3 linked regions of the Homo sapiens genome follow. The protein of the gene in region 1 purifies or fractionates together with the protein of each later gene. This does not show direct contact. Each region holds a gene or a part of one and is shown in the gene's direction. Other genes may lie near its edges.

What was found.
Region 2: the proteins of LZIC (region 1) and CDK8 purify together in Homo sapiens (affinity purification with mass spectrometry; one large-scale study listed by BioGRID and IntAct). This does not show direct contact.
Region 3: the proteins of LZIC (region 1) and GINS2 purify together in Homo sapiens (affinity purification with mass spectrometry; one large-scale study listed by BioGRID and IntAct). This does not show direct contact.

Annotation. Positions count from the first base shown.
Region 1 is NC_000001.11:9,933,369-9,937,096, reverse strand, and holds part of LZIC (protein LZIC), read left to right. Parts: intron 1-469; coding exon of another isoform or gene 470-477; coding exon 478-578; intron 579-1,469; coding exon 1,470-1,605; intron 1,606-2,236; coding exon 2,237-2,335; intron 2,336-3,728.
Region 2 is NC_000013.11:26,260,609-26,264,336, forward strand, and holds part of CDK8 (cyclin-dependent kinase 8), read left to right. Parts: intron 1-3,728.
Region 3 is NC_000016.10:85,682,455-85,685,954, reverse strand, and holds part of GINS2 (DNA replication complex GINS protein PSF2), read left to right. Parts: intron 1-3,500. UniProt on the Homo sapiens protein: Required for correct functioning of the GINS complex, a complex that plays an essential role in the initiation of DNA replication, and progression of DNA replication forks.

The DNA of each region.
Region 1 (3,728 bases):
GATGGGGTTTCCCCCATGTTGCTCAGGCTGGTCTTGAACTCCTGACCTCAGGTGATCCACCCACCTCGGCTTCCAAAAGTGCTGGGGTTACAGGCGTGAGCCACCACATCCGGCCTTTTTTGTATTTTTAGTAGAGATGGGGTTTCACCATGTTAGCCAGGATGGTCTTGATCTCCTGACCTTGTGATCCACCCGCCTCGGCCTCCCAAAGTGCTGGGATTACAGGCCTGAGCCACCGGCGCCTGGCCGCAGCTGCATATTTTTAATTGCACTAGGGACTGGGTGTGGTGGCTTATGCCTATAATCCCACCTCTTTGGTAGTCCAAGATGGGAGGGTCACTTTAGGCCAGATGTTCCGAGACCAGCCTGGGCAACATAGTGAGACTCTGTCTCTACAAAAAATAAAACTTAAAAAAATTGCACTGGTATGTTAATTTCATATGGTATGTGGGTTTATTGTTTCACATAGAGATTAAAATGGCTTCCAGAGGAAAGACAGAGACAAGCAAATTAAAGCAGAATTTAGAAGAACAGTTGGATAGACTCATGCAACAATTACAAGATCTGGAGGAATGCAGGTAAGAGTTTAATTGTATGTTGTTATGCTGGAAACTGGCGTTTTTTCTGCAGCTAGCTCCGTGGATGCAGGCCCATGTGTGATGATTCTGCATTCCCCTGTAGTGTTCTTTGCAGTGCTTTGTCTATTAGAGAAGTAAACTTATTGCAGGCTTTGGAGTCATAAAGGCTGGGAAATGAAAGTCATTCAGTTAACTACTAAGTGCATGTGAACTTGAGCAAAATACTTACCTTCCTTGAAGTAGAAATAACACCTACTTTGTCTTTAGTATTTAAATCAGTCCTACCTGCTGTCAGGCTAAGAAGGTACTACTTGAACTTCTGGCATGTAGTTTCAGCCTTACCTGCACAAAGGACCACAACAGTTCATTGCAGCTTTTTTTTTTTTTTTTGAGACAGAGTCTTGCTGTATTGCCCAGGCTGGAGTGCAGTGGCGAGATCTCAGCCCACTGCAACTTCTGCTTCCCAAGTTCAAGCGATTCTCCTGCCTCAGCCTCCCGAGTAGCTGGGATTACAGGCATGCACCACCATGCCCGGCTAATTTTGTATTTTTAGTAGAGACGGGGTTTTACCATGTTGGCTAGGCTGGCCTCGAACTCCTGACCTCAGGTGATCTGCCCATCTCAGCCTTCCAAAGTGCTGGGATTACAGGTGTGAGCTACGGCACCCTGCTTTATTATGTGGTTTCTTAAGTATCCTCATTTTGGTAAAAGAAAAATGTTTACCAAAGTAACTATATTGCAGGAAAATGCCCTCACTACTACTATGTGAACACATTCACCATCAGCATTTTGATATTTCCCTTCAGTCTTTCTCTAATGTACAAGTATTAAGATTGCATTTTTCACTTGGAACTCTTCATTTTTCCATATCATGATGTTCACCTATTTCAGAGAGGAACTTGATACAGATGAATATGAAGAAACCAAAAAGGAAACTCTGGAGCAACTAAGTGAATTTAATGATTCACTAAAGAAAATTATGTCTGGAAATATGACTTTGGTAGATGAACTAAGTGGAATGCAGCTGGTAAGTATAACATATAGGCGACAGAGGACAGACTTTGTTTTTTTGTTTGTTCTTGTTTTTGTTTGAGATGCATTCTTACTCTGTCGCCCAGGCTGGAGTGCAGTGGGGCAGTCTTGGCTCACTGCAACCTCCGCCTCCCAGGTTCAAGCGATTCTCCTTACTCAGCCTCCTGAGGAGCTGGGATTACAGGCATGTGCCACCATACCCAGCTAATTTTGTATTTTTAGTAGAGACGGGGTTTCTCCATGTTGGTCAGGCTGGTCTTGAACTCCCAACCTCAGGTATCTGTCTGCCTCGGCCTCCCAAAGTGCTGGGATTACAAGCGTGAGCCACTGTGCCTGGCCTTTAGTTTTTTTTTTTTAGAGATGGGGTCTTGCTACATTTCCAAGGCTGGTCTCAAACTCATGGGCTCAAGCAATCCTCCTGCCTTGGCCTCCCAAGGTGTAACTTCTAGATGAGTGTCTGTTTATGCATACACAACATATCCTTCCAGATCTTCATTTAGTTGTGTAATTGCTTCCATGACAGGAACCAGTAAACCTTGATAAAAATTAAGGATCCGTCAATCAGTTATTGCAATATCTGATTTGTTGGACTATTTTGGTTAGTTTTTGCCTTCTTGTGTTTCTAGGCTATTCAGGCAGCTATCAGCCAGGCCTTTAAAACCCCAGAGGTCATCAGATTGTTTGCAAAGAAACAACCAGGTCAGCTTCGGACAAGGTTAGCAGAGGTAAAATTTCTTTAAATTGATTTGGTTGCTGTGTGTTTTTCATTTCCTAGGCCAATTCATTATGATATCCTATGGCTTAAAAATTTGCCAGGTGATTTTAGAGCCACAACTAACAATTTTCTGACAAAATTAGTACTTTGAGCAATTATAGTTGATAATGAATGTAGAGCTTTAAACAATATACGGCAGTTTAAATTGCCACTGACCACTTCTACCTGGACTCCACCTTTAATGTTTTACCATTTACTTCTGGAGCTCTAACTTAAAATCACATTGAGAATTAATTAGCAGCATTGCTTGTATGCATGTGTAGCCTATCTCATCTAAGAATTTCAAGTATCTTTGTAAACCTGATACTTCCAGAAGTCTGTTTATAGGCTTGGATGTAATTAAGAGTTACCAAATTATTTGTAAGTATGGGCAATTCAGTAGCATAGTGATTCAGAGCATGGACTTTGGTCAGACTGGCTGGATTTGAATTCCTGCTTCACTACTGAGGTATGTGACAAGTTTTTTATGTTTTTTTTTTTTTTTGAGATGGGGTCTTGTTCTGTTGCCCAGGCTGGAGGGCAGTGGCGCAATCTCGGTTCAGTACAACCTCTGCCTCTGGGTTCAAGTGATTCTCTTGCCTCAGCCTCCTGAGTAGCTGGGACTACAGCAGGCACATGCCACCACGCCTGGCTAATTTTTGTATTTTTAGTAGAAATGGGGTTTACCATGTTGTCAAGGCTGGTCTTGAACTCCTAACCTCAAGTGATCTGCCCGCCTCAGCCTCCCAAAGTGTTGGGATTATAGATGGGAGCCACTGCGCCTAGCCTTTTGTTTGTTTTTTGTTTTTTTGTTGTTGTTGTTGTTTTTGAGGCAGGGTCTTACTTTGTCACCCAGGCTCAGTGTAGTAATGCAATCTCGGCTCACTGTAGCCTCTGTCTCCTGGGCTCAAGCGTCTCCCATCTCAGCCCCTCAAGTATCTGGGCCCACAGGCACAACACCACCACACCCCACTAATTTTTGTATTTTTCATAGAGACAGGGTTTCACCATGTTGGCCAGGATAGTCTTGAACTCCTGAGCTCAAGCAATCCACCCACCTCAGCCTTCCAAAGTGGTGGGATTACAGGCATGAGCCACTGTACCTGGCCTGGACAACTTATTTTATTCATCCCCTTTGTGCCTAGGTTTCTCTGTCTGTAAAAACATGACAAAGATAGTCCTTACCTCTTATGGTTCTTATGAGGATTAAATGAAGTAATATGTGTAAAAGTACTTTGAATATTCCCAATGTGTGGTACATGCTATTAGTGTTTCTGGTGGAAGAGGTGATATTTTACTAGATGATTTACTAGAACTGCATTTAACATTTCTATCATATTTGCCTTGGATTATATCTGTAGTTC
Region 2 (3,728 bases), on another chromosome or scaffold:
CTCTTGTTGGGGCTCTGATGTGTGGAAAGATGAAAGGTAGGGACAGGGCTTCTGGCATGCTGAATTTCAGCTAGGAAAACAGAAATAATGAAAAATTATAATTATTATAGGCCATTTGCAAACGTAACTACTTTGACAATTAATTCTCTGGGCAAATGTGTTCTAATTCTGATTTATAAACATTTGAAATGTGATTCATTTGTTAGATGGGAACTATGTATGGCAAATCAGTGTTGATAAATACATTTGATTCCCTGTGACTGGTGTTAATCTTTCTTGTAGTGCCTTTCACTATTGAATCCAATCCTCATTGTCTCTTGACTCTTTTTCTGTTCTTAGCTGCTGCTAGAAAATAAAACTCCTACTATCCTTTCCTCCTTCAGAACACTTTGTGAATTTTTTCCTTCACACCAGATTACGTAGCCTTGGTCATGTTACTTAGAAATTATCTTTTCTCTTTAGCAATCTTTTATCACCTCAAGGCAGCTCTTGATGTCACTAAAAGGTGGCTTTTACCTGTTGTTTTGACCTTAGTACTTAAAGACTGTTGGTATCATGATTCTGAATATTCTTTAATATAGTTATTGTCAAAGTCCCAAAACCAGTCCTTGCTGTAGTAAGCTGCCTTTACTGATGGAGTTATGTTCTTCAGATGTATTGTAGCAGAAAAAATGCTGAGAGCTCCTTTTTAAAAATTGAGATATAAGTCACATACCATAAAATTCACCCTTTTAAAAGTATGTGATCAGTATAGTGTTTTTTAGTAGATCGACGAGGCTGTGCAACCACCATCACTGTCTAATCCTAGGACATTTTCATGACCCCAAAAAGAAACCCATTAAGCAGTCAGTCCCATTCCCCTCTCTCCCCAGCCGTTGACAAGCACTAATCTACTTTCTGTCTCAGTGGATTTGCCTGTTCTGGACATTTCATATAAATGGACTAATTCAACATGTGGCCTTTTGTGTTTGTGTTTCTTTATTTAATGTAATGTTTTCAAGGTTCATCCATGTGGTACATGTATCAGTACTTCATACCTTTCTATGGCTGGATCATATTGCATTGTATAGATATACCACATTTTGTTTATATATTCATCAATTGGGCGTTTGGGTTGTTTCCACTTTTTGGCTAAAATGAATAATGCTTCGATAAGCAATTATGTGTGACTTGTTAGGTGGATGTATGTTTTCAGTATATACCTGGGAGTGGAATTTCTGGATCATATCCAAAGCAGCTGAGAACCAATTTTGAGTGACTTTACATTGACTTTGGTTTAGGACCAAGTTCTTTGTTCTTTGTGTACAAGACCTGACTAGTCTATTTTATTCCAGGACAGTGCTCACACCATAATCTATTGCAGTAATTCTGAAACAGAGATTCATACAGCTGCTCTCCTCCATCAACTTAGACCACTCTGACCTTTTCCTCAGGCAGCACCTTGTGCTGGAATTTTTTTTGTCTCAGGCAGCACCTTGTGCTGGAAATGCTTTTTTCTCAGTTGAAATGTACTGACAGCCTCAGAAAAAAATCCTAACTACGTATCTTAACATACAACTCCAATAAGTCCCACTTTACCCGTCACCCTGCAAAACATAGTCATTCACTGATATATTATGTAACTACTTCAGTGTATATGTGGTTAATGCTTATGTGTCCTTTGGGTCTTTCAGGTGAATGTTTATGGGTTAAAATTATAGATTTCCTTTAGGGCAATGATTGTGTTCTCCCCAGCTCTTGGCATATTGCCAAATTTTGACAGGTATTTTGTACTTTTGTGTATGTGTGTGTGTGTGTATCTGAAATTCATGTTTGAAAATCTTTTTTCTAAACTTGCTAACATTAAAAGCTTGAGGCATATTACGGGAAGAGTAGAAAAGTAATACCTGTGAAAATACCAGGAGAAGCAAAATTTGATGGGTTTCCTATGTTTTTACCCAGAATGGCACTGAACAATACCAAAATCAATCCAAAGGCAAGAGCAAGCTCGGTAGTTGGCTGAATCGAAATGGAAGGCCAAGGTATTTGAAAATTGAGCCACTAGAAATAATATTTTTTTGAAATATACTTTGAAAATGAACCCTTTAAAATGTGGATCAAATCTGTATTTCTAAAATTAAGGAAAACGTAATTAGTTTCTGAATCACAGTTGGCATTTAATTTTGCCTAAAATCACTGGTCTGTATAGCATGATCGTTTTATTTGAAATTTACCTTTTGTTACATGAGTAAAAAATTATTTAGACTAACTTCTATTCAAGGTAACTCAGTTACTCATCTCACTAGACAAGTTCTTTAAAGTCTATAACTTTATTGTAATCCATGAATTCTAACAAATAATCATCCTACAGAGAGGAATTTTTACATCATGATGAAGGGCCTACTCTGGGTGTTTCTAGACATTTGAATCTATAGGTTGTTTAGAGGACTAAAGGGATTGAATAAAAAGAAAACTTGTCAAGTCGTGCTAATGTAGTTTATATTAAACAAGTCATATTTTTGAGGAAAGAAGGAGTAGGTTTTTTTTGTTTTTCGGTTTTTTTTTTGAGACGGAGTCTCGCTCTGTTGCCCAGGCTGGAGTGCAATGGCGCGATCTCCGCTCACTGCTAGCTCCGCTTCCCGGGTTCACGCCATTCTCCTGCCTCAGCCTCCCGAGTAGCTGGGACTACAGGCGCCCGCCACCACACCCGGCTAGTTTTTTATATTTTTAGTAGAGACAGGGTTTCACCGTGTTAGCCAAGATGGTCTCGATCTCCTGGCCTCGTGATCCGCCTGCCTCAGCCTCCCAAGTGCTGGGATTACAGGCGTGAGCCACCGCGCCCGGCCGGGAGTAGGTATTACCTTTTTTTTTGAGCCAGAGTTTTGCTCTTGTTGCCCACGCTAGGGTGCGATGGCACGATCTTGGCTCACTGTAACCTCCGCCTCCTTGGTTCAAGAGATTCTCCTGCCTCAGCCTGCCGAGTAGCTGAGATTACAGGCATGTGCCACCAGCCTGGCAGATTTTGTATTTTTAGTAGAGATGGGGTTTCACCATGTTGGTCAGGCTGGCCACAAACTTCTGACCTTAGGGATCCGCCTGCCTCGGCCTCCCAAAGTGCTGGGATTACAGGCGTGAGCCACCGCGCCCGGCTAAAAGACTCCCTTTTTTTTTTTTTTCGAGACGGAGTCTCGCTATGTCACCCAGCCTGGAGTGCAGTGGCACGATCTCGGCTCACTGCTAGCTCCGTCTCCTGGGTTCACGCCATTCTCCTGCCTCAGCCTCCCGAGTAGCTGGGACTACAGGCGCCCGCCACTACGCCCGGCTAATTTTTTTGTACTTTTAGTAGAGACGGGGTTTCATCGTGTTAGCCAGGATGGTCTTGATCTCCTGACCTCGTGATCCGCCCACCTGGGCCCCCCAAAGTGCTGGGATTACTGGCGTGAGCCACCGCTCCCAGCCAAGACTCCCTTTAAGTAAATGAGTCTCCTAATGTTTTATTATGTGACTTTCTTTGCAAAAATTAAGTTTATACCTAATTTCCAAGAAAATGTCAGACAGAAAGCAAGACATACTTGTAATTTATTTTTTAATGCTGACTTAATGTTGATTTTTTAAAGTGTAAAATTAAATTATTTAAATATTTGGCATTTCATTATGGTTTGCCTTTAGCTGCCGTTCTTTTTTTTCTTAAAATTAATTAATTAATTAATTTTATTGAGACAGGGTCTCACTCTGTTCCCTGGGCTGGA
Region 3 (3,500 bases), on another chromosome or scaffold:
TGAAAAGACCCTGAGTGATTTTTTTTTTTTCTTTTTATGGAGATGGGGTCTCAGCCGTGAGTGATTTTGACTGCCCCCTCCTTACTGGGACTTATTGGGGGTACCTACCTCCTAGAAGCAAGAGCTCATTGAGCCAGCCACTCTGGGGTCCGTTTAAGACAGACTGCTTAGTGTCTTCCCCTTGCTCCCTGTCCTAAAGTGGCAAGTGACTCAGGTAGTCCTGAAACATAATGGGAAACCCCAGTTCCTCTGCTTTGAGACGGTTTTTTTTTTTTTTTTTTTTTGAGAAAGGGTCTTGCTCTGTCACCCAGGCTGGGCTATAGTGATGCAATCATAGCTCACTGCAGCCTTGACTTCCCAGCCTCAAGTCATCCTCCTGCTTCAGCTTCCGGAGTAGCTGAGACTACAGGTGTGCACCATCATGCCTGACTAATTTTTTGATTTTTTTTTTTTAGTGGAGATGGGGGTCTTGCTATGTTGCCCAGGCTGGTGTCAAACTTCTGGGCTCCAGTGATCCTCTCAGAGTGCTGGGATTACAGATGTGAGCTGTTGCCCCTGGCCGGAAGGCTTTTGTAGAGGAGAGGCTCACCAGGCCTGGCTCCATTAATGCAGCATCCTCTCCAGGCCCCTTGTTTAAAATCAGTGTCTGGCACTTTTGTCCCATCTAGACCCCAGGTGATAACATGGCAAGGGCCTGTTTTATCGCAGGCTAGAGTCAGAAGGTGTGGAGAGTTCCCCTTGAACTTTTTACCTGGGCTGGAGCCATATTGTGGGAACAGTGAGGCACCATTAACCTGTCTATAGACCCTACCCAACAGCCTGCTGCCTCCTGACTTCTGCACCACAGATAAGTTCTGCCTGTTCTGGGCCAGGCGCGGTGGCTCATGCCTGTAATCCCAGCACTTTGGGAGGCCGAGATGGGTGGATCACCTGAGGTCAGGAGTTCAAGACCAGCCTGGCCAACATGGTGAAACCCTGTCTCTACTAAAAAATACAAAAATTAGCTGGGTGTTTGGTGGGCGCCTGTAATCCCAGCTACTTGGGAGGCTGAGGCAGGGAGAATTGCTTGAATCCAGGAGGTGGAAGTTGCAGTGAGCTGAGATCGCGCCACTGTACTCCAGCCTGGGAGATACAGCGAGACTCCATCTCAGGAAAACAAATCCAGTTCTGCCTGTTCTGGGACTTCATGTAAATGGAATAATCTAGTATGTCATTTTTTGTTTCTGATTTCTCTTATCCAACACTGTTTTTGAGATTTACCTGTTTACGTTCTCAACACCGGGACACAGAGCTCAGCTCCCAACCCCTTTCTCCACTACTGAAACTCATATTCACACCACCTGGCTATGTTCTTTCATTGCTGGGTACTCTCCATACTACATATTTGTTCACCGATTCTTCTGTTGGTAGATATTTGGGATTCCCCTTTTTGGCTTTAACAAAAAATTTAGAGACAGGGATTTCTCTGTTGCCCAGGCTGAATTGCAGTGGTTATTCAAAGGTGTGATCATAGTGAATTGCAGCCTCCAACTCCTGGGCTCGAGTGATCCTCCCATCTCAGCCTCCCTAGTAGCTGGGACTACAGGTGTGCATCAATGTGCCCAGCTCATTTTTGGCTTTTGAGACAGTCTCTCGCTCTGATGTCCAGGCTGGAGTGCAGTGGCGTGATCATGGCTCACTGCAACCTCCACCTCCTGGGCTCAAGCGATCCTCCCACTTCTGCTTCTTGAGTAACTGGGAATACAGGTGTATACCATCACATTCAGCTAATTTTTATAGAGACAGGGTTTCACTTTGTTGCTCAGACTGGTTTTGAACTCCGGGGCTTCCACCTCGGTCTCCCAAAGTGCTGGGATTACAAGTGTGAGCCACTGTGCCTGGCTCATTTTTGGCTATTCTTAATAAGGCTTTTGTGAATATTCTTGTCCACGTCTTTTCATGGATATGTTTCTTTTTCCCTTGGGTAAATAAATACCTAGAATGATGGACTTGCTGGATCTCAGGGATAATGCTTAACTTTGTAAGAAACGGCCACCTGGTCCTTCAAAGCAGCTGAGCCTTTATCCTACAAGAAATATGAGTTCCCATTGTTCCATGTCCTGGCCAAAAATTTTGACTGTAGCTTTTTTATTTGCTAGAAAGTTGGACCAGAGGTGTTTCATAAGCTGATTCAGATGTTAATGAAAGGATCACTCTGCTGTGTAGAGAAGGTTGGTGCAATAGGAGCAGGGAATGAATCCAGGCAAGCACTGAGAGTGGCCTCTGGCTGATGGAGGTGGGAGATGTGGTAGGTGTCTAGGTGTGTTTTGAAGGAAGCAGCAGCAGGATTGGCTGAAGGACTGGCCATGGGGTGTGAGGGAGAAGAGTGAAAGCTGACAGCCAGGCTCTTGGCTGGAGGCCCAGGAGAGGGAGTTGCTGTCTCCTGAGGTGGGAGGCTGCAGGAGCAGGCTGTGGGCTGCAGTGGGTATCAGGAGTTGGGGGTTTGAACTGTTGTGCTTTCTGGATATCCAGGAGGAAGTTACAGCAGCAATGAGGTTATTGAGTTAGGAGTTAGAGCTCAGGGGCTGATGGGGGTATAAATTTGGAGGTCTTTCTGAGCATGTGGGTAGCATTTGGACGAGGTGGTGTGGATATGAGTTTAGGTAGTGAAGAAAGGGGTTGGGAGCTGAGCTCTTTGTCCCAGTGTCGAGAGGTCAGGAGGAATTGCCAGGAGACAAAAAGGGGAGCCTAGTGAGTTCATAAGCAAGCTCAGAGGGGTGTTCACGGAGGGCCTTCTTTTTAAGGCTATATCTATTAGTGTGTTTGGGAGGATCAAGCAAGGAGGGGACAGTGATCATTTAAGAGCATGAGAGCTGCTGGAGTGCCTTACTGTGCAGGTGAGAGGAGGGTCCAGGACACCTGGAAGGCTGGTCCTCGAGTGGGTAGGAGCTACACAGGGAGTTTGGGGGATGGGGTGGTGTGTGGGTCACACTCAGCTGGGTGTCAGGTGAGAGGTGGGTGGTGGGTTGAGGCGGTGCTGGCGGCAGTGAAGAGAGGGTGAGTAGACCAAGGAATTGGGCCAGGATTGCAGGACGGCACCAAGGGCCCTGGGGATGGGTAGTTGGCCGTTTACAATGGGACCCTGCAGCGTAGCTGTGCTCCGTGCTTGTCCCTTAGCTATAGTACACAGTCTGCTCCCAGGACAGGTTTCTCTGTAGAGGGGGAGGGCTGAGGGAGCTGGAGCATGTGTGAGAACAGTGCTGATGCTGGTGGAATTGGATACAGCTGTTTGATTCTAGACGCTGGGCTTTCACCCCTCTAGGATGTCATGCCTCCTCCCGGCTGGGGTGGCTTAGCCCTCTAGGATATTGTATCGTGCCCAGGCTGGGGTGGCTTAACCCCTAGGATATTGTATCGCGCCCAGGCCAGGGTGGCTTAACCCCCCTAGGATATTGTATCACGCCCAGGCTGGGGTGGCTTAGCCCCTAGGATATTGTATCACGCCCAGGCTGGGGTGGCTT